Linked DNA regions of Homo sapiens. The protein of the gene in region 1 interacts with the protein of each later gene in a pairwise test. Each region holds a gene or a part of one and is shown in the gene's direction. Other genes may lie near its edges.

The links.
Region 2: the proteins of NUB1 (region 1) and SNCAIP interact in a two-hybrid assay, tested with the Homo sapiens proteins (2 studies listed by BioGRID).

The regions. Positions count from the first base shown.
Region 1 is NC_000007.14:151,333,784-151,350,087, forward strand, and holds the start of NUB1 (NEDD8 ultimate buster 1), read left to right. Parts: upstream 1-8,028; 5' UTR 8,029-8,063; exon of another isoform or gene 8,064-8,182; intron 8,183-11,564; 5' UTR 11,565-11,566; coding exon 11,567-11,683; intron 11,684-15,289; coding exon 15,290-15,457; intron 15,458-16,304. UniProt on the Homo sapiens protein: Specific down-regulator of the NEDD8 conjugation system. Recruits NEDD8, UBD, and their conjugates to the proteasome for degradation. Isoform 1 promotes the degradation of NEDD8 more efficiently than isoform 2.
Region 2 is NC_000005.10:122,315,237-122,322,236, forward strand, and holds part of SNCAIP (synphilin-1), read left to right. Parts: intron 1-6,054; exon of another isoform or gene 6,055-6,598; intron 6,599-7,000. UniProt on the Homo sapiens protein: Isoform 2 inhibits the ubiquitin ligase activity of SIAH1 and inhibits proteasomal degradation of target proteins. Isoform 2 inhibits autoubiquitination and proteasomal degradation of SIAH1, and thereby increases cellular levels of SIAH.

The DNA.
Region 1 (16,304 bases):
CGGGCACCTGTAGTCCCACCTACTCAGGAGGCTGAGGCAGGAGAATCGCTTGAGCCCAAGAGGCAGAGGTTTCAGTGAACCAAGATCACGCCACTGCACTCCAGCCTGGTGACAGAGTGAGACTCCGTTTCAAAAAAAAAAAAGAAAAGAAAAAAGAAAAGAAAGAGACAGAGGAAAGGGGGGAGAAAAAAATGCAAGCTAATAAGAAAATGACAAATACTCATTTCCTAGGTAATTATTATCTGAAACAGCTAAAATGAAATTAAAAGAGAGTGCTGGCGGGGACCTTGATACTAAATCAAGCTCACATTTTAGTTGAGTCTGAGGTCTGGCCACCAGCCTCAAAGCTACTTCCAAAGGGAAAATTATTCAGGGACAACCGAAAGTACCTCTAAGGCCTGTGGTTACTAAGGTAGTCAATGTGGGGGAAAAGCAAAACCAAGAAACTACTGAAACCAGAAGGTATAGTGTGGAGGAATTGCTTCGTGTTGTGGATTGGCATCACCGGCTTCCTGAAGAACATTTACTAAAATGGATTGTGAGAGTAACTAATTTGGGGGCACTTTCTTTAGTTTTCAATGATGCCGGGTGGAAGAGCATTTTGAGTTGATGCCGAACCCACAGCTCACTATAGAACAATCACAGATGGTTGTATGGGATGCAGACACACAGCAGGTTATTCCCAATGGAATACAGCTTGCTGGACTGGATAAAAGCCACTGTAAGTTCTGCTTACCCTGTAAAGAGGAATTGTTCGATTCTCCCTAAAACCACCTTTGCAAAATTATAAGAGTAAGAGAAATCTGACGTAGTTGACTCCATCTTGCTTCTGACTTCCAAGCTGTCCTCAGTCATTCCTGGGTGTAGGCCAAGCTAATTTTGGGAAGAATTTAGTTTACAGTTTAACCTTAAAGCAAGGATGATAATGGGCCTTTCCAAAATTAAGCCACCTTTCTAAAACTAATGAAAGACTACCAGGTTAGGTTTATGAGATGGGCTTGAATTCTGCTAAGATGTAGGCATAGTTAAACGATAGCCAGGCATTGTTCTCAGGTCACATGATTTGTAACTTCCCCAATTACTCCTATAGCTAACATCACTATTATAGAACCTCAGATTGGTCTTTTGAGATATTTTTCAGACTTTTGCATTCTAGCAATTGACTAACCTCACCCAGAAGTGGACTTGTGACTCATGACCCAGCCTGTCCTGTGGCCCCACCCAAAGGTGGGCTCAGCATGCCCCAATGATTGTATCCCCCAGCAATCAGCAGCATCCATTTCCTAGCCCCTTGCCCACCAAACTATCCTTGAAAACCCCTAACCTCTAAACCTTCAGGGAGACTAATCTGAGTGATCACTCTGTCTCTCCAGGTGGCATGGCTGGCCTTGCATCGATAAATCTCTTTCTTTACTGCAGTGCCGCTGTCTCAGTGAATTGATTTTGTCTGGAGATTACAGGTCCTATAAATGCCAAGTGAAACACCCCGGATGAAGCAGCTCATATGCTTCATATGCGTGTGATGTGGAACTGGCTTTTTGATGACTGGGATGTTCACTTGCTGAAGAGGCCCATTACTCAGGTCATGGTAAATGCTGTGGTTAAGGGGCCCCTTTTAATGTGGATGCTCCATATAACTTTATTGATGAAAACCAAAAGACAGTTTAGGAAGTTTTATCCAAATTGCTCTCTTGGCTTCCCCTCATGGGTCTTACAGATGCTGATAAAAAACATTAGGTTAATTAATAAGAGACTGGGGAAAGGCAAAAGGGAGAGTCAAAGGGACTCATCTCAGTTGACCAAGAAAAAGCTGGCAGGTTTGTGGATGGCAGTTCCAAGGTGAATGAACAACATCCTATTTGGAAAGATGCCATTCTGATCCAAGAAGGTGAAAACATGGGCAGCTCTGTGGGCTGAATCCCATGCTATTTTCCTAGCAGCAGTGGAAGAATTGAAGGGTGGTCAAAGCCCCTGTGTGTGTGGTTTTCCTGACTCTCAGGCAGTGGCCAAGAGCCTGGCATGGGTATTGTGGTGATAAAGAATCAAGGAACTTCTACTTAACCAACTTTACTTCTGTTGGAGTAAAATCAGAAACTCCTTAAACACCCTCTGCACGATAGCAAAATTTAATGCTGAGTATTATCGATTCCTGTTAGAAGAGTGAAAAGTAACAGGTAGTTTTGGCAGCTCCTCTTTATTGATAGTTGCTTTGATCAGAATGATACGGTCAGCCTTCCATGTCTGTGTCTTCTGCATCCATGGATTCAGCCAATTGCAGATGGAAAATATCCAGGAAAAAAAAATTCTATAAAGTTCCCAAAAGCAAAACTGGAATTAGCGGCATGCTGAGTACTGTGCTGAATCCACACGAACGACGTGGTGTGTAGGCATCGTATTAGGTATTATGAGTGATCTGGAAGTGACTTAAAGCACAAGGAGGATGTGCATAGGTTCTATGCAAATATTACGCCCTTACATATCAGAGACTTGAGCGTTTGAGGATTTTGGTATCTGTAGGTGGTTCTGGAACAGACTCCCACAGATACGAAGGGATGACCGTATATGCTTTGGATTAAGTTGTGTGGTAAACTAATTCTTTTGTACATGGGGAAGTGGATTTAAAAAGAAAACAAGTTAATTCTTGACTTTCCTATTTATAAATGGGAATTTCTGGGGACTGGTTATCGACTGGAGTTTTTGGGGAATTTGAACGATGACTCACACTTTCAGTCTGGTGGGTTTTCTATTTTACTAGGAATCCTTGACAAAGGCTCTCTCTTCTGACCAAACTTTAGTCAGTCTCCTGAGTCCTTTCTGATTAGGCGCAGCCTTGGGCTCCTCTCTCTTCTTGTAGAATCCAGTTAGAGCAAGAACTTTGCCAAGTCAGTTGAGAGAAGGCCCTCATCTTTTGTATCTGATCCTTTTATCTTTTATCTGGTCACCCTGGCCTGCCTTCAGCAACAATAGTATCAAGTCATTTTAGCCAGAAGCCCCTTCTCCTTGATATTTCTTTTGATTTTTCATCCACTGACCCCCCCTTCTGCCCCTCTTGTTCCTTGATTATAAATTCCCACATGTCCTAATTGGACTTGGAGTTGAGTCCAGTCTCTCTCCCCCACTGCAAGACCTGTTGCAGGGGTCCCTATACATATTGTCATGGCCTCTTTGAATGGCCTTCTTTAACAAGTGTCATAAATTATATATATTTGAGATGGATTTTCGCTCTGTCACTAGGCTGGAGTGCAGTGGCGCAATCTCAGCTCACTGCAAGCTCCGCCTCCGGGTTCAAGTGATTCTCCTGCCTCAGCCTCCCAAGTAGCTGGGACTACAGGCATGCGCCACCACGCCCAGCTAATTTTTGTATTTTAATAGAGACAGGGTTTCACCATGTTAGCCAGGATGGTCTCAATCTCTTGACCTCGTGATCTGCCCACCTTGGCCTCCCAAAGTGCTGGGATTACAGGCGTGAGCCACCGCTCCTAGCCCATAAATAATTTTTTAACATGCTGTTTGGAGACATAGTAATTTTATTCAGCATCTTAGTTGGATATGAAGAACATGGAAGAAAGAGAAATCAAGTTAGTGGTGAGGAAAAGTTGTTCACATCTGATTGGGAATCCAGAATTTCAATCACCCAAACAGATGATAGAAGCTAAAAGAAGTTACAAGGTCATTGCATAGGAGGATTACTCTGATTCCTAGGAAACATGGGCTAGGATGCCTTATTTCAGTGGAGGTCATGAATTCCTGTTGCCATAGTCACTGTGAGAAAGGGCTTGGCCTTCTCACCTGTGATTCAGGTAGAATCATTCTGGAAGCATGTAATCAGTCCTCAAATTTTGTGTTCTGGTTTTGAATCTCTGACATATTCTGGTCCAAATTTTTTAACCCAGGTTCATTTGTCTCAATAGTTGGGTAGGTGCAGCTGGGCGCGGTGGCTCACACCTGTAATCCCAGCACTTTGGGAGGCCAAGGCGGGCAGATGACGAGGTCAGGAGATCGAGACCATCCTGGCTAACATGGTGAAACCCCGCCTCTACTAAAAATACAAAAAATTAGCCGGGCATGGTGGTGGGTGCCTGTAGTACCAGCAACTTGGGAGGCTGAGGCAGGAGATTGGCGTGAACCCGGAAGGCGGAGCTTGCAGTGAGCTGAGATTGTGCCACTGCACTCCAGCCTGGGTGACAGAGCAAGACTCCGCCTCAAAAAAAAAAAAAAAAGTTGGGTAGGTGATACACTTACTCTAACAAGATAAAAAAATAAGGAGAGAGATGATAAATAAATAAATCCGTGGTATTAGTACTACTGAATTAAGTTCAGGATCATCTGTTTGTGTTTTATCCGTGTTTGTTTTTTAACCCCTTTTAATGTTAAAAAGAATTCGATATACAATATTAGTCATGTGACTTTAAGTTTAAGGGTGAATAAAAACTAAGGTGACCTTGGAAGTAAGAAGGTGGCTACTCATCACTGTAGGCTTACCATCTGAGAAACCTCCATGGGAGGCCAGAATAACTTACTTCTTTTGCTTTTTTAAACTTAATTCCAGAAGACATCACATATGCATGACAAAGATAAAAGCACAAGTCTGCACCATTTCTGTGTTCTCAATAAATCTTATTGCCTAAAATATTAAGGAACGTTGAACTAAACATGTGTATTTTCTTTTAGCACATTAAAGATGCCATTCCATTGTCTTCTGGATTTATTGTTTCTGAAGTCAGCTGACAATCTTAAAAGGCAATGCATCTTTTCCCCGGCACCTTTTTTTTGTTTAATTAAATTAAATTAATTTTTTTTTTTTTGAGATGGAGTCTCAATCTGTTGCCCAGGCTGGAGTGCAATGGTGCAATCTTTGCTCACTGCAACCTGCATCTCCCAGGTTCCAGCGATTCTCCTGCCTCGGCCTTCCAAGTAGCTGGGATGACAGGCGCCCTCCACCACAGCCAGCTAAGTTTTGTATTTTTAGTAGAGACGGGGTTTCATCGTATTCGTCAAACTCATCTCGAACTCCTGACCTCAGGTGATCCACCTGCCTCAGCCTCCCAAAGTGCTGGGATTACTAGCGTGAGCCACCGTACCTGGCCCTGGCACCTTTTAAGATTTTATCTTTTTCCTTGGTTTTCAATGGTTCTACTAGAATGCACTGGGTGTGGCTGATTTTGTATTTATCCTGCTTAGGAGTCATAGAACTTACAGAATTTGTAATTTGATGTCTTTCATCAGTTTTGCGAAACTTGGACTCTTGGTTATTATCTTTTCAAATATTGTTTCTGCCCCTTTCTCTCTTTTTCTAGAAACCTGAATACCTGGTAGAACTTTTCATCATGTCCCATGTGTCTCTAATGCTTGTTTCTGTATTTTCCATTCTTTCCTTCTATGCTTCAGTTTGGATATTTTCTATTGATGTGCCTGCAGTTCACTAATCGTGTCTTTAGTTTTGTCTAACATCCAGAGTTCACAGCCTCATTTATTACACTTTTCACCTCTAGAGTTTTCATTTGATTTATTTTTATAGATTTCAATACTCAGGTGAAAATTTTCATCTTTTTTTCTGTTTTCTTGAAAATGTTCATCAGAGTTATTTTAATCAGGCAACTCCAATATCTGACTCATCTGTGGGTCTGTTTCTATTGTCTTTTTCTTTTTTTATCTAGTAACTTTTTAATGAGATGCCAAATATAGCTTCTAAAAAGTTGTAGAGGCTTCAAATGTTATCATTCTCTCAGGAGGGTTTTTCCCTTTCCTCCACAAAACCAAAGACAGGAGTGGCCAATAACCTTAATCCAATCAGGGACTGCATGGAGTGAAGGCTGGGCTGAGGTTCTGGTAGGGTTCAAGCTACCGTTGCCCTCCAGTTTCCAACTGGGAACATGGTGTAGGCTCTGCAGTAACCCACTTCCACCACCACCCTAGCAGATCTCAGACTCGAATCTTTGTTTTGCAAGTCTATCAAAAACTTCTGCTTTCAGAGGCCTTCCATTTACATTTCAGTTTCTTGCCCCATACAAGCCTTGAATTCAGCAATTGTCCTTGGAATTTCCCCCTACATCGCTGTGTTGGTTTTGTGTCCCCAGCAGTGGCCCTCTGTGGTCTCAAAGTCTAAATTCTCAGCCTCATGCTTGTATCCAGAACTGGCAAAAGCCCTCACACACCAATACAAGCCACTGCAGACATTAGCTCACCCCTTGAAGGTTCCTCATTCTCTGGAATATCAAGTCCCCCCATTCTTGCCTCAGCAGCTTTCACTGCCTTCAAACAGATGTTTTCTGACTTCGCTTTCTGGCTTTTCTAGTTGTTGTTAGTGGGAGCCTTGGTCTACTGCAAGCTGCTCCATCACACCTGAGCGTGGACATTCAATTTCCTGATGGTCTACTACGTAAATGTAAAAGTGAAACTATCTTTGTTACTCATCTCAGAGAAAGCCCTCAGAAAAAAATGTCAGAACAGTTTCTGTTGTCCTTCTACCTTGCTGCAATTGCTACTGAGCAATCAACGGGCTTTTTCCTGATGTGCTAGAAGCCAACACCATGGCACGGGCTTTTGAGAAAAGAAAGGCTTTATTGTGAGTTGACTGTCAAGGAGACATGAGGAAACCCTCAGCTCTGTCTCCTTGAGCTTGGGGCTGGGTTGGGTTTTATAAGCATAGGGTAATGACGCATGATCGGATTAGATTTTGCGATGAGGTGATGCTGGGATGCTCATCTGACTGGACCCTGCCATGGGGTGACACCAGGGCTTGATCTGATTGCATTCTGGATCTCACCATGCAGTGCCCATTTCTTAATTCAGTCCCTGCTTTGATCTGAGCACTCAGGTTCCGCCCCTGGTTGCATGCTTGGTTCACCTGGGCATCCTCAGGTTACGTGCGAAACCTTCCATCTGGGAGTCCATGCAACTGAAAAACAACTCACAACTTGGGTATATAAAAGGCGAATCAGATTGGTCTGGTGCGGTTATACAGTTATTAATATCCCTTTGTCAGAAGTCAAAATTACCACAAATTTAGATTAAAGATCTATTGGTTTTTATTGATTCATGAATCAGGATGGCATCTTCTCTGAAAATTTAGAAACGGTGCTCCAACGAGCTGGGCAGAGGAGGTGGGCTTTATAGGTAGAAAAGGGCTAAAGAAAGCAGCAACAGGGAACGAAAAACGGATTGGTCACTGCAAGGTTACAGGAGTCCCCTCTCGTCCACACACAGGTGGTGTGTCCCAAGACCCACAGTGGATGCCTGAAACCTCGGATAGTACTGCACCCCATTTTACATACACACACATATATATATACTATATATATACACACACTTCATTTTTCCTATACATACGTACATACCTACGATAAAGTTTAATTTATTAGGCACAGTAAGAGATTAACAGCAATAACTGATAATAAAATAGAAGCGTCACTGTTGAGCACAGCCTTGGGAATAGGACCTTGGAAGTAGGCAGAGCTCCCTAGGCCTTGTGGTCCCTAGTGGCCGTGGACAGCATGGGGGAGGAAATTCCCGGGAAGCAGCCTAATTTCACCCCAGGGAAGCCCCTGGTGGGCTTGTGGAGGGCGGGGTGAAAAGCCGCTGGTTTAGGGAAGGGGTCCAGCCTAGGCTGAGGAATGAGATGCGGGTTGGGACGGTCCCGACCCTTCCCCCAGCCTCTTTCAAGGATTCTGGAGAAACAAAGCCAGGATCCATTTCCTCTTGATGGCTGGCAAACTGAGCCCGGGCGGGAAGTCCTGGAAGACTGAGCCTGGGGTGGCGTTGGACACCAACTCCCAGGTCCTCGCCCCACACGGCCACATCCTCGCCCAGCCCCGCCTCCGCTTAGCTCCGCCCCGTCGCGGCTCCGCCCCGCGGTAACCACGCCCACACAACCGTATCCCCGCCCACAGCTGGCTTCGCCTTGGCCCCGCCCACAACCCTCTTTCCAAGCGGCGGCGGCGGCGGCGGCGCGAAGGCGACAGCGGCGGCGGGGGCGGGGCTGGCCTCACCCGGAATGAAAACAAACGGCGGCCGCTGCCGCATCCGGGCACTCTGCTGGTCGCGGCGGGAGTGGCGTGGCGCAGGTGAGGACACGGCGGCCGAGTGTCCTCGACCCCAGCCTCAGCAGCACTGCTTGGCGCCCCGGTTCCCGGTCCGACTGGGCACCTCTCCTGGCCAGGGGTGGAGCGGCCGCGGGGCGGGGGTGAGCAGCCATGCGTGGAGCTGGGCCGGGGCCGGGGCCGGGGCCGGGAGCGGTGGGCCGGGCTTCGGGACGCGCTGGCCGTTCGGGGCCCTTTGGTTTGCCCTGAGTTAGGCAGAGGTGTGGGGTATTTAAAAGAAAATATTGAGTGTATCGGTTTGGGGAGAGAAAGGAATAAATATGTCTATAAAAAATTAGCCAAATGCTATACTTGAATCGTAACACTCCGAGTATACCATTTGGGATTTATTTGCAATCAAAGCCAGATTTTCTTTGCTATTTAATGACAAGACACTTGATTTTCTCGAACCTTGACGACCTGATTCTATCATTCTCACCTCCTTCCCTTTTATTTTTAATCAAGAATCTTTCATTTTCCTAAGAAAAAATGAATGTGTCTTGACTAGATATAGTTGTGTTTCAACTATATATAATGTATACTTGAAAAGGTGTGGCTAAATGTAGCAATGATCGATTCATTACAAAAGTGAAAGTGAAATTTTTAAAGGATCGTTATAACGTTTCACTTTCTGCTTGGACCACGGAGTGATATTAATGAGTTTCGTCTTTTCTTAGTTACAATGTGAAACATTGTATGGCATGCATGAAACTTTTTCAGTTCTCATTTCAGTTAAAATTAAAAACTGACTTATTAAACTTGACTTAAAATATGTCGCCACTTACTCTGTTGTCTATAACTGAAGTTCCTTAAGTTTCAAGACAGTGGTTTAATTTTTTTTTAACATTAAATCTTATTCGGTGTAACCCTGGAGCTCTTGTTTGCTCCCTGGAGTGTCTGACACGCACTGGGTTTGTAACACTCCTTCGTCCTTCTGTCAAGTGGTGGCTTGGATGGCATCTTTTTAAAAATTTTTTATTTGTTTATTTTTTTAGTAGAGACGGGGTTTCACCATGTTGACCAGGCTGGTCTTGAACTCCTGACCTCAGGTGATCCACTGGCCTCGGCCTCCCAAGTGCTGGGATTACAGGTGTGAGCCACCGCGCCCGGCCTTGGATGGCATCTCTGAGTACCGCATCAGCCTTTCAAATTGCTTGGCTCCAGTAACCAGCCTGTGAAATTACTGTCCCCCAGTGGGGAGACAGTAGGGTTGCTGTGATATTTTATTCAGAATTTCTGAAGATTCATGAGTAGTATGTAAAGTAGTTTTTAAAGTTATTTGTGTTTGAAAAGCTAACGCTCTAAGTACTAATATGCTTTGCTGTGATAAGCCGTTTGTCAGTGCTTGAAAAATGGAGGATTCTCCCATGGGCCACCCAGGTTGCACACAGCAGCCTCATTGGCTGTGTTATTCCTTCCTCTCTTTTCTCCTCCCTGTCCTGATTAGCCTAATTCTTGTCCCCGCACTGACATAAAATAGATTTGAACTTTCTTTTAAAAAATATTTGTTTATGAAATACACAAGCTACCAAAGTTTTCAAAGATTTCAAAGTTGTGTGAATTGGGTTTGGGGGGATGTGGAATACTGGCCCTCAATAGAAGAAAGAAATTTATCTTGGTAATATTAACTCATATTTTTTCCACTCTCTAGAACTTGTCTTCATCATTCAGGGGCTAATAACATTTTTCTTTACTTATTGCTTGTCTGATTTGGGAAACCTTAAAGCGCTGTGCTACACCTGCCAGCTGCCTTACATCTCAGCCGCCTCACTCACCTTTGAATTGCTGTGCTAGTATGGGATGAGTAGACAGCTCCATCGCGGTACATACTTCTCTGGGAGAGAGAAGTTACATACCTGGAACAGGCAAGCAGCAAGGGACTCCATGACGGAAGTTCAGAGTCCAGTGTTGTGGGTGGAAGTTGTGCTCGTTAAGATGCTGCCTAATTTTGTGTCTTTGCCTGAGTCATGGTACAAACTCAGGGCCCTAATTTTCTCAGCTGTAAAATGATCCGATCAGTGTTAGATTTGAATAGTAGGGCCAGGCGCGGTGGCTCAGGCCTGTAATCCCAGCACTTTGGGAGGCCGAGGCGGGCGGATCACAAGGTCAGGAGATTGAGACCATCCTGGCCAACACGGTGAAACCCCATCTCTACTAAAAATACAAAAAATCAGCCGGGCGTGGTGGCGGGCGCCTGTAGTCCCAGCTACTGGGGAGGCTGAGGCAGGAGAATGGCGTGAACCCGGGAGGCGGAGCTTGCAGTGAGCCGAGATTGTACCACTGCACTCTAGCCTGGGCGACAGAGTGAGACTCCCTCTCAAAAAAAAAAAAAAAAAAAAAAAAAAAAAAAAAGTAGATGTGCTGTTAGGCTGTTAATCAGAAAATATGCAAAATTTTCCTAGTATTGTAATCTTTTTAATTTAAAAAATTCTGACATAGAAAATATTTATATATTTATTATTATTTTGAGACGGAGTCTCACTCTGTTGCCCAGGCTGGAGTGCAGTGGTGCCATCTCGGCTCACTACAACCTCTGCCTCCTGGATTCAAGCGATTCTCCTGCCTCAGTCTCCCGAGTAGCTGGGATTACAGGTACCTGCCACCACGCCCGGCTAATTGTTCATATATTTTTTTTTTTTTAGTAGAGATAGGGCTTCACCATGTTGACCAGGCTGGTCTCGAACTCCTGACCTCAGCTCCTGAACTCAGCCTCCCAAAGTGCTGGGGTTACAGGCCTGAGCCACCACACCCATCCGAAAATATTTATTATCGATAGTTTACAGTTCAAGCAAGCTTTTCTTTATATTTAACTACCAGGATGGTTGGCCTTTTGTTTTATGTTAAACTAGCCAAAGTATGAGAGAATTTACAAGCTCACGCCTGTAATCCCAGCGTTTTGAGACCAAGGTGGGTGGATCACTTGAGGTCAGGAATTCGAGACCAGCCTGGCCAACATGGCGAAACCCCGTCTCTACTAAAAATATGAAAATTAGCCGGGCGTGGTGGCGCATGCCTGTAATCCCAGTGAGTAGGGAGGCTGATGCAGGGGAATTGCTTGAACCCAGGGGGCGGAGCTTGCAGTGAGCCGAGATCGCACCACTGCACTCCAGCCTGGGCGACAGAGCGAGACTCCGTCTCAAAAAAGAAAAAAAGAAGTTCACGACTCGAGGGATTTATCTTTCTCTTATTTTCTCTTTTCTCTTAGATAAGAGAATAGCAGATTAAGAAATAGAAACATGTAATAATCCTTGCTACATATTAGCAACTTTGAAATACATATTTTATATATGTAATATATATAATTGAACATATATTTCTATATATATTTTTAGAGAAGTCTGGAGCTCATTTAAACCATAGTAATTTATATTTAATGACAGAGGAAGGGAGCTTTGCTTACCCAACAAAGCACCTTAACATGTAGGTAAGTTATTAACATTTTAAAATGCGATGTGGAGTTTTATTAATGTATTGTTTTGCTTTCAGGGATGGCACAAAAGAAATATCTTCAAGCAAAATTGACCCAGTTTTTAAGGGAAGACAGGATTCAACTTTGGAAACCTCCATATACAGATGAAAATAAAAAAGTTGGTTTGGCATTAAAGGTATTTTTCTTTTAAGACATCAATAATTAGCAGCATTATAAATCTCCTTGGTAAATAAGATTCTGAATTGTCAGGCATGACCATATAAACTTTTGGCATAACCAAAAGCATTAGTGGTGAGCGGGTACCCACTTTTTACTAGGAACTGACAACCTTATTTTTGTTCATTAATATTTTATTCACATGAGGATGTTATCTAATTTTTCAGGCATATATTTTTAATACCATCACAGGATTACATAACATTATTTATCTGGAACTCATTTTGACCCATTAGTGGAACAGTATTGGTGCCAGTAAGTAATTGCATTGTGTGTTCAAAGTGACAGTGTCTTGGCTCATTCTCGGTCCTCCTTGCTATCATCATCTGCTGTGAAACAATTGCTCCTTTTTCCCCCAGTTTTTTTGATGCTCTCACTATCAGTGTTCATTTTTCCAAAATAGGTTTTTTCTAACAGTTGTATCTCAGTTTTTCATGGCATCATCAGAAATGATATTGTATGTAAGTGATGTTTCTAGAAACTGAAGTCTGCTTGCTTTTCTAAGCAGAGAAACAGTACTCATTTTTGCCAGAAATCTATCATACTGGAATTTCCTAGCATGTACTTCTCTGCTCTCATTCAGAGTATCCTGAACATGATGTAACATTTATCAGGGACTAAGGATTGTCATGAGGCATTAAATTGCTCTGTGTTGTGACATAATGATGTGCTTGGGAGGTGACAAACTGTATTAGGGTCCTAGTTCTTCTGTTTCTTCTGTTCCAGGCAGGCCTCACTTTTTCTTTGCAACCCACCTTCTGACCTTGCTTCTGAATTTATTGTTACAGTCTCTTGGTTTAGAAACTAGGTGTGGCATAAAGGAAAAATATTTGACCTTTGTCCCTGGTTCCTGGCAGAGCCAAAACTCTTGGGATTTCCTAAGTGGTAAGCATGATAGGAGCAACCTTTGTGCTCATGAGGCTTGGTTGCCCCTAGATAGCTTCAGGATGGGGCTGGTCACCAAAAGTACCAAGCCGTGATTAGACACTTGAAACTTTCCACCCTCCCCTCCAACCTCTGGGAAGGGGAGATTGAGCTGATGACTAATACTAATGGTCAGTGATTTAATCAGGCCTGCATAATGAAACTTCCATACAAACCCCTAAGTGACAGATTTTGGACAGCTTCCAAATTGGTGAACACATCCACATGTCGGGATGTACACCCCCAACTCCATGGGACAGAGGCTTCTATGCTCAGGACCCTTCCAGACCTTGCCTTAGTACCTCTTCATGTGAATGGTTATTTGTATCCTTTGTAATGAACTATATTCATAAGTATACCATTTTCTGGAGTTCTGTGAGTTGTTCTAGCAAATCATGGAACCTGAAGGGGGTGCTTGTGTGAACCCTCGACTTTGTAGCTAAGTCAGACAAAAGTATGGGTAACCTGGGGACCAGATACTTGGTAACTGGTATCTGAAGTTAGGGCTTTTTTGTGGGCTGAGCCCTTAAACCTGTGGAGTCTAACGCTAACTCTGGGTAGTTAGTGTCAGAATTGAATCGTAGGACTTCCAGTTGGTGTCAGAATTGGCTGGTGACAGGAGGAAGAAAGAAATCCTCACTAGTTAGGTTTTCTAGAAAATTATAGAAAGTTTTTAAAAAAGTATTTATAATATATATTCTAGGTTTTAAAAAGTATGTATATAAATACAAAAATATAAAGAATGTATTTTTAAAATATGTTAAACATCGTTAACATAGGTATATTCTTCCTCTTTTCCTACGTAACTATTAAAAAAATGTATTGCTGGACACAGTGGCGCATGCCTGTAGTCCCAGCTACTCAGGAGGCTAAGGCAGGAGGATCACTTGAACCCGGGAGTTGGAGACTGTAGTATGCTATGGTCCCACCTGTGAATAGCCACTGCACTCCAGCCTGGGCAACGTAGTGAGACCCCGTCTCTAAAAGAAAAAAAAAGTATATATAGGTTTATGTTACTTACAAAATTTTTTTTCCTTTTTTTTTGAGACAAGGTCTTGATCTGTTGCCCAGGCTGGAGTGCAATGGCATGGCCATAGTTCATTGCAGCCTCACACTCCTGGGCTCAAGTGATTCTCCCACCTCAGCCTTGGGAGTAGCTGGGACTACAGGTGCATGCCACCATGCCTGGCTAATATATTTTTAGTTTTTGTAGAGACGGGGTTTCACTTTGTTGCCCAGGTTGGTCTTGAAGTCCTGGGCTTGAGCAATCCTCTCACCTTGCCTTCCAAAGTGCTGGGATTACAGGCATGAGCCATCGCGCCCAATCTATACTCATATCTATAAAGTTTTCCAACTTCACTTTTATCATGAACATCTCTTCTGTCATAAATTTATGCTTACACCATAATTTTTACGTACTACATGGTATTACATTATGAATTTAATGAAACCTTGACCTTTAGGGTTTTTTGAAGTGTTTACTGTTTTATGAGATGTTTAATGAAACATTAACCTCACATGCAGATACAGATTGAGAGGAGTATCCCGTAACTGAAATATTTGGGACTGGAAGTGTGTTTGGATTTTGGAATGTTTGCTTTATACCTACTAGTTGGGCATCCTAATCTGAAAATTCAAAATTCAAAATACTTCAGTGTGCATTTCCTTTGAGCATCTCCAGATGCTGAATTTTGGCGATTTCAGATTTTTAGATTAGAGATACTCATCTGGATTTTTTTGGGGAGGAACCATAATGACTTTGCTCTCAGTAATAACTGGTTCCCATCCTTTCTTGAGCCCTTTCAATCTTCTTTTTTTTCTCAATTCTAAAGCTCTCCCTTACAAATAGTTTTACAACTAGTACCCATGATTCACAGATTTTCATTAAGAGAATTGTTTAAGTCCAACTTGATTTGTTCTCACAAGTTTGAAAAATTGGAATATTTTCTGGGTTTTTTTTTCATTTTCCCTTCCAGTGGAGTTGAACAGTTCATTATACTTTTTAAATAGATCACAGTCACATAAGTCATAGCCCACCCTTTTCTTCTCCTTAGAAGATTCTCTATTATTATTATTATTTTACTATTTGTAGGTAGAAAACATTTATCAAATAAATGTTTTTGTTTTTTGCTTTTTGCTTTTTTTTTTTTTTTTTTTTTTTTGAGGCGGAGTCTTGCTCTGTCACCCAGGGTGGAGTACAGTGGCACAATCTTGGCTCACTGCAGCCTCTGCCTCCTGGGTTCAAGCGATTCTCCTGCCTCAGCCCCCCAAGTAGCTGGGCCTACAGGCACACGCCACCATGCCCAGCTAATTTTTGTATTTAAGTAGTTATGGGGTTTCACCATGTTGGCCAGGCTGGTCCCAAACTCATCACCTCAAGTGATGCGCCTGCCTCGGCCTCCCAAAGTGCTGGGATTACAGGCATGAGCCACCGCGCCCAGTCTCAAATAAGTGTTTTCACTTTTTCCTGGCCTCTCTAAACTCCACACCTCTCAAGATGTCAAACCACAGTGTGGACTGCAGTGTAACGGGGCGACCTCCACTCATCAGAGTTGATGGCCTTAGAGTCTTTCATGCCCTTTTCTATATTTTGCCTTTTTTTTTTTAAGTCAGTATTGCATTTTCTGATTTTTCTTGATAGGACCTTGCTAAGCAGTACTCTGACAGACTAGAATGCTGTGAAAATGAAGTAGAAAAGGTAATAGAAGAAATACGTTGCAAGGCAATTGAGCGTGGAACAGGAAATGACAATTATAGAACAACGGGAATTGCTACAATCGAGGTGTTTTTACCACCAAGACTAAAAAAAGTGAGTAATTTCCCTAAATTTGAGTAGGCACTAATGTCCAGTTAGTGATGAGGTCAAATAAATTGTTGTTGTTTGGAAAGTTACAATCCAAAGTCAGAATTCTTTTAAGTGACTTTACATATTGAACAATTTATCAGCTTGAAAGTCAATGTTACAAATTCTTAAACTGGAACATTCCCAAGGTAGGCTTTTAGAGACCCTCTTGGGCTTCTAAAATGCCACAGAGCTGTATGTCACATTCTGATCCTTTCTAGCGTGTGAACGTTGAGAAATAATGGGGAATAAAGGATTCCCAAGTTTCCTAGAAGCCTGTGCAGGAGGACACAGCACAGAAGGCTTCATCCTTTTCCTGTTCCAGTAGAGGTCAGAGGGCAGTCCGCTGAGTGCTCTCAAGCAGGGCCGAGGAGATCTGGGTGGGGTCACCTCCTCTCATTGCCATGGCCAGGTAGTTTGCATCTAGAAATGTCACTGTGGCAAGGCACCCAGAGCCTCTTGGGACTGATCGATGCCAGCACTCTCAGAAGAAATAAGAGCATAGGCTCCAGCCCTACTGGGTCTGTGGTTTTTCTCCTCATGTGCGGAGACAAGAGATCGTAGAAATAAACACACAAGACAAAGAGATAGAAGAAAAGACAGTTGGGCCCGGAGGACCACTACCACCTAGACGCGGAAACCGGTAGTGGCCCCGAATGCCTGGCTGTGCTGTTATTTATTGGATACAAGGCAGAAGGGGCAGGGTAAGGACTGTGAGTCATCTCCAATGATTGATAAGGTCACAGGAGTCATGTGTCCACCGGACAGGGGGCCTTTCCCTTGTAGGTAGACGAGGCGGAGAGAGAGGACAGCT
Region 2 (7,000 bases), on another chromosome or scaffold:
AATGGCTTTACTTATATGTCTGGCAGTTATCAGACTGTTGGCCAGGGTAACATAACGAGTGGCTGGGATGTACCTCCCATTCTCCAGCACACTCCCCTTGGCTTCTTTACATGGCAAATCAAATAGTGTTGTAAGAGCAGTAAAAGAACAACCTGCAATGCAAAAGCAACTTTAAAACCTCACCTTGAATCACATTAGCTACTCTCCCATTAGCCATGTCAAGTCAGAAGGTTACCCCAGATTCAAGGGGTATAGAAAGAGTCCACTTATGATGAGAAGGAGCTGCAAAAAATTAGAGCCAGTTTTTGTGATCTACTACATTTTTGAGGATACTTGTGTCTAGCAGATGTTTTCTGCTGAAAATAATATGTTAGGAGAGCATATTGGAGCCTGCTTAGCAATAGCCCAGGATTTAGGTTAAGTAATTGTCCAGTAAATCATTGTCCTGCAATTTTTTTTCTATAAACCCCAGGTAGAGGAAGTATGACACAATGATAATAAAATTTTAGTCATATCCTTCTGACAGTGGTGTTGGGATGGTTTGGAGACAGGAGGCTGGTGGCAGGGTGAGCTGAGCATTGTTGAAAGTTGATGTTTTTGAGAAAAATGGAGGCAGGAAAATTGGAAAGGGGTCGATCTGGGAGATCCCATATTTAGGATGAGGTGACTGATTATAGGGGGTTAGTAAAAGTAAAAAGTCGAAAGCATTCTGAGATTTAAAAATACTTAAGTGACTAAAAGAATGATTGTGCTTTTGTAAGAAATAGAAAAATCAATAAGGGATTTATTTGGGGGAGGAGAAAAATTCAGTTCCAGAAATGTTGATTAAAAGAGATAAATTGAATGTCAAAGTACTTTATAAGCTGCAGAGTAGGCTATGAATGTTAGCTATTGTTTAGTGTTTAAATCACAGTGCACTATTGTATATAGTTAAGTTTCTTTATGTGTATATCAACAGAAAACAAAATACAACCTCAGGGATTCCCTAAGATGTCAAAGGGAAGTCAGAACCACTACTCTCAGGATGGAAGGTCTACTCTTAGAATGCTCTTCCCTTAAACTAAGCATACCAGGCAAGAGAACACCTTTGACTTAATTTGAGTGGCATCCACACTCCTGAGCCAGTAGCACTGACTGACAGCCACACCAGGTCAGCACACAATGCAAAGTGGGTGGGTTCACCCTTAAAGGACACTGGAGCACTGCTGTCAGAAGTGGAGATGGAAATAGGGTGACAAGACCAACAAATGCTCACCACAGATGAACACTTGAAGATTTATTTCGGCCTAGACGTGGGGAAGCAAGAGGTAAGAAGGCAGGAGGTGACAACTTAGGCATATGTCCATAGAGTGTAGATGCATGAATAATAGTTGAACCCATGCTTGTGGTGGAGTTTTCTCGTGGAAAATAAAGAAAAGACGGTCTGGCACAATGCCTCATCCAGACTCCTTCATTAACGTTAATGGATGTTTAATAGAAGGGAGAAGAATTCTAAACATGTTCTGTTCTGCCTTTCACCTAAAAGCTCATGCAAGGTGCTGTTTCTTCAGCCTCATTTTATGGCCAGACTGAAATTCAGGTGGTGCCCTTACCGCAAAGTGCAGCTGCTGGGCCAGACAGAAACACCTGGCCTCTCCAGCTTCACACAATTAGTCTGAACAGCATACACAGCTGCTCTTTATGGAACGACCTTGGATGGACCAGCTCAAACCAAAGAATACGTTTTTATCATTTTTATTGCACAAGTCTAAAACCCCTGAAGACACTCAATAAATGTTAATTGAACGAGTGGATGTGCCATTATCTCGTGCAGTAACGTTTTTTTAAAATGATCTGGTCTGGCTTTTCATTATAAGTGTAGAGTTTGCTATAAAGTCCCTAAGTGCCTTTTGTAGACTTAAATGTTTTAAGGTACTCTTGTCACAGTAATGTAGGTTTTTTAAATCCACCACTCATAAAAATAAACTATTTTTCCTTTATTGAGACACAGTTGTCTTTCATCCTTGTGTTTGTCAGGACACTTGGTTGCAAATCACAGAAACCCAGTTTATACTTGCTCAAGTAGGAAAGGGCATATACTGGCTACTGTAAAGGAAAAGTTCAGAAAGAATCCAATTCTGATTTCTTCTTTTCTTCATGGTGGCAAAATTTTCATCTGCAGCTTTAGGCTTAACTCCTGAGAAAAAGAGAATTCAGGATTAACTTTAATTAGACCACTTTGATCACATGCATATGCTTGAACCAGACCCTATGGCCGGAGATTTGGACCATGCCACTTGACTCAGCTTTGATTATGAGCCCAGTCCTGGAGGCTTTTGGAAGGGGAGAGTGGTATGTGTGACGGCAGGTGGGAAGGAGTGTATGGGAGTGAAGGAAGTACATGGGAGACTAGTCAGCAAAACTCTTCTAAACCATATAACCTGAGAGCAGGGAAGGGGTAGTTTTTAAAAGGAAATATTGAAAAGAAGAGATAGGAGATGCTGTGCGTGCAGAAACAGCAGATATCTATTAAATACTATAACACCTGTTTTCCCTGACAGGCATATCATCCTCTCACTACACCTCCAAGCCAGAGACCTGGGAATGATCTCGATCTGACCTTCTCCCTTTCTTCCTCCACCTAATCAGTCACCAAGACCTCCTGCTCCACTTCCTTTCATGTTTCACTCTTCCCAAGTCACCTCTACAAATGCTGCCTTCAGTCTCTCAGCTTTCAATCCATCCTCCTCACCGCTGCCTGCTTGCTCTTTCTAAAGAATAGATAAAATTGAATTATATAACTCCCTGCTAAGAACCATTCCAAACCTTGTCATAGTCCTGGAGAAAAGTACAGGCTCCTACCATGAATTCCAAGATTCTCTCTGAGGTGAGTCCTGCCTCCTCCTGTGGGTGCAGGGGATGGGTAGGTGCTGGTATGTTCAGCAACGCCTTCTTCTAGCTGCCCATATTATCCCCATGCTTAAATGCTTCATTGCATGTGCTTTTACATGGGCTGTTGTCTCTGTGGAATATTGTTTCTTCTTTCTCAAACTATGAACTATTAAACATTTACTTATCCTTCCAAACTCATCTCAAGTGTTGCTTTTTCAAGAAGCCCCTGCTGAACATCCCCTCCCAGCCTCTCCCCACATCACACTTTATCCTGTGGTACGTATGGCGTTGGATATACATGTGTGTCTCCCTCTGTAGACTAAATGTCTTGAGAGCTGGACTTACTTCCTTATCTTTGCACATCCTGTGCTCAGTACAGTGCCTTGCCCACCATGTATCTCAAAAATTTTTAAATAAATGAGAGAAAAATGTGTGTTGAATCATTCATCTTTCATTTTTTCAGGTGACTTTCTTTAGGTATATTCTATTTCCTTTAAATTGATTTTCACATTTGCCTCTTAGGATACTGGGACATGAAGACAGATTCTCTTTGAAGCTGCTGCTCAGACACTTTTTCAACAGTTTTCTCAATGGTTTATATACTTACTTATTACTTGGTCACTAATAACAACCTTAAGGAGGAGGCTGGAAAATATCAGTGACCCAGAGTAAATCTCCAGGCTAAAATCTATGGGTCAGAGACCAGATAAGGAATCCTTTTCCCCCTATCATCAGAGAGGATATTTAATAATTAATATTTATGAGGCACTCTGTTTTGAGTACTTAAAAGATGCCTTACAATTACTTTCTTATTTAGTTCTCACAGCAGCCCTAGGTAGGAGGCGTCACTGTTATCATCTTTTTTTTTTTTTTTTTTTTTTAACAGATGAGGAAACAAAGATTTAGAGATTTGAAGCAGTTTGTCTGCCACTAAGCTCCTTCCTCCTGGCGACTGCCAAGTGGCCAGACACTCACCTGAGTTGTTGAGGAGTAGAATAAAGCTTTGATTGGGCTCTTCCCATTCATCTGTTATTTTTTGTTGTTGTTGTTTTTATTCTAAGATGAGTAACCATCATCTTGAGAATAAAACATTATAGCTGCCTTCTTTGGTCATCAATCCTATAAAAAAAAAAACTATGGAAAAAGGTGTATTTAAAGAGGTAAGGGCTCCAGTACTATTGTTGAAATTAAGATCAGTTTCTTACTTATAAATTCCAGTCATCTTCCTGTGATACTGCTGCTGCCAGAAAATAAAAGCGTCTTATGGAAGGAAGTTGTACTGCTGCATATAAAATGCAGGCCTCTTGAGGAGGCACAGAAAAGCTTGGTTTTGAGAGTCATTCACAGAGCTATTCCATAGATAAATAGAAGGAGCTAAACACTTTGGAAGCCACAGAAACTCAATAGTTCTTAAACTGTTTTCAGTCTGAGAGTCTTAAGAGCATCATATGAAAGCTATGGATTCTTTCCTTGAAGAGAAAAGATGTCCACACATACCCCGCTTTGTATTTAATTTTAGGGATTTCAAGGATCCATTGAATCTCGTCTGTGGATTTCCTGGGACTCCTTGGACTCCAGGTTAAAAAATCTGTTTTAAAAGCTGATGCAGAAGGAAGATATTAGCCATTGTTGAATGTTTACTGTGTTTGACATGTAACCATTTATTCAGTGTTTACCGGATGCCAGCCCTTTTTGAAAGGTACATTATAGCTAAGCCATGCATTATGAGTCCAGTTTTAAGCCATGGAGGAGAACGAGGTTCAGAGAGGGAACTCACAGTCTCCCACTGGGAAAGTACTGAGAATAGAATTAAACACAGAACCCAGGTTTGTATCACCACTACTTCATGCTGCTTCCGCACTCATTCATGCAACCAAATGAAGCTTAAGACTTGTGCCACTGAAATTTGGATCCTCTGTTGGTCCTGACTTCCCTCAGCCTTCAGCTTCTCTTGTTAAAAGTAAGTTAAGTGGCTGCTTCTGCCACAAGAGCTTCCTGGAATGTGTCCAGTGCAAGAGCAGTCAAGGGCTGGGAAGGTCTCACCTCACTCTCCTCCTTCACCTGTGACAATGTTTTCACAGTGGGACAGATAACATCATTAGAGTGACAGCACTACTGGTTTGATCATCTCTAGGTAAGTTTCTACTTCTTACTCATTTCCGAGTACAGTTTGCACACTTGGAAACTTTAACTTAACAGATGCTCAACAGCAAAAATGACTGCAAATTCTCCATGTGACCCCTCTTCCACAGTATTTATTGAGGCCTGTATTCTGGGCTCTGTCCTCTAAGTTGCGGTCACAGCAGTGAGCAGACAGATGTGGGTCCTGAGCTCATGGTATTTATAGCTAGCTTATATCTAGCTAGGAAGGGGGCTAATAAATAATCGAAATAAAGCGTGGTAAGTGTTATGAAAAAGGAAGTATCAAGAATTTATTCTATTCAAGTTTCTTCATTCTTTTCAGCTTAAAAACTCTGATCACAAAACATTGTATGTTTCTCCAGCCCTTTCTTCCCCCAGGATGTTTAGAGTGCTTCAGGTTTCCGAAAACTTAGTTGACAGAGTCAGGGGGATATGCAGGCCAAGCAGTTAATCTCAGTCCCCGCTTTGCAGATGAGAAGGCAACAGTGACCAAATGACTTAACCACAGATGGAGTGAAGACAGGGGTAACTGCTTGGTCTGGTCCCCAGTAGAGCATTGCTCACTATAAACCACAAGCTGCTTCTAATTTATTTGAGATGTTATTATCGTGGCCTTTATATTCTGGTCTCTCTTGCTGCAAATGAGTCCGGCAGGCAAGCACAACTCAGAAAGCAAATTCACCTTCTTTGTAGCCCTTGATGGGTCGGTCCCCCTGTTGTCTCTTTCTCATTCCATAGGCATTTCCCCCACTCACCCTCTTGCCCTGAGACCGCCTCCCCAGATTTTCTCCTGAAGCATTGTCTTGTGACTGCACCAACCTACACTGGCAGATAGAAATGTAATAGGATCCATGAATGGGAGCCATGCAGGCAATTTCATATTTTATAGCAGGCGCGCTTAAAAAAGTAAAAGGGAACAGGTGACATCAATTTTAATAATATATCTTACCCAATATAGCCAAAATGGTAGCATTTCCATATGTAATCCATATAAAAAATCATTAACCAAGTACCTTACATTCTTTTTTTCCCATATTACATCTTTGAAATTTGGTGTATGTTTTTTACTTACCTCAATTCAGAATGGCCACATTCCAATGTGGCCACAGGTGGCTGGTGACCCCTGCAGTGGACTTCAGGCTTGGACTCTGAGGAGACCCTGGGATGCCTAAGACAGACTTAGTGACCACCTCCTCAGCCTCCCTCGACACTTAGCTCAGATCTTTATTGCTGCTCCAATAGAAGGTTCACAAGGTTGTTTTCTCAAACCTGGGTTCTTGAGGGAAGGGAATATGTCTTTGTCATCTTTCTATCTCTCATGTAGAGTGCAGTGTTTAGAAAGCCCACCATTGGCAGTGGGTACATGGTGAATCATTAATGAACAAAGGAGGGATAACTGTAACTCCAGGAGTTGAAGGGCTTGGTATATGGAGGCTTACCTGTCCAACCCCTGCTCCCTGGCTCTGTTCCCCCATCGCAGGGGCTCCTGTTTCAATCTCCCATCTTTGTCCAGTGCTGCAGAACCACATTGGAGTCAGATTGAATGGACAGGAGGCATCTCCAGTCACACATCTAGGCTTCTAACCTAGAATTGTATTGAGACTGTATACACCTTGTTTAGTTTTTGTTTCACCTCTTTTAATACCAAATACTAGAAGAACTTATAAGCAGTCTAGTATGTGAAATCATAAGTCTTATTCAACAACATGGAAAAAAAAAACAAAAAAACAGGACAGACCAAACACAAAAACAAAAACTCGTCCAGTGAACAAGCCTCCTGTTGAGATTGCAAACAAGGCCAACTGACATATATAGAACATTAAATATACAAGAGAAGAGTAGCCTGCATCAGGGAGCTGTTAGAGTCATCACGATGAACTTTCTGTTTCCAGTGGTTTTAGAGTCATCACTACTCCCTCTGAGAGAACTGGAGATTTATATCCTATGTCAATTTGCCTTTGCACATGCAGTATTTAAATTTTGCAAG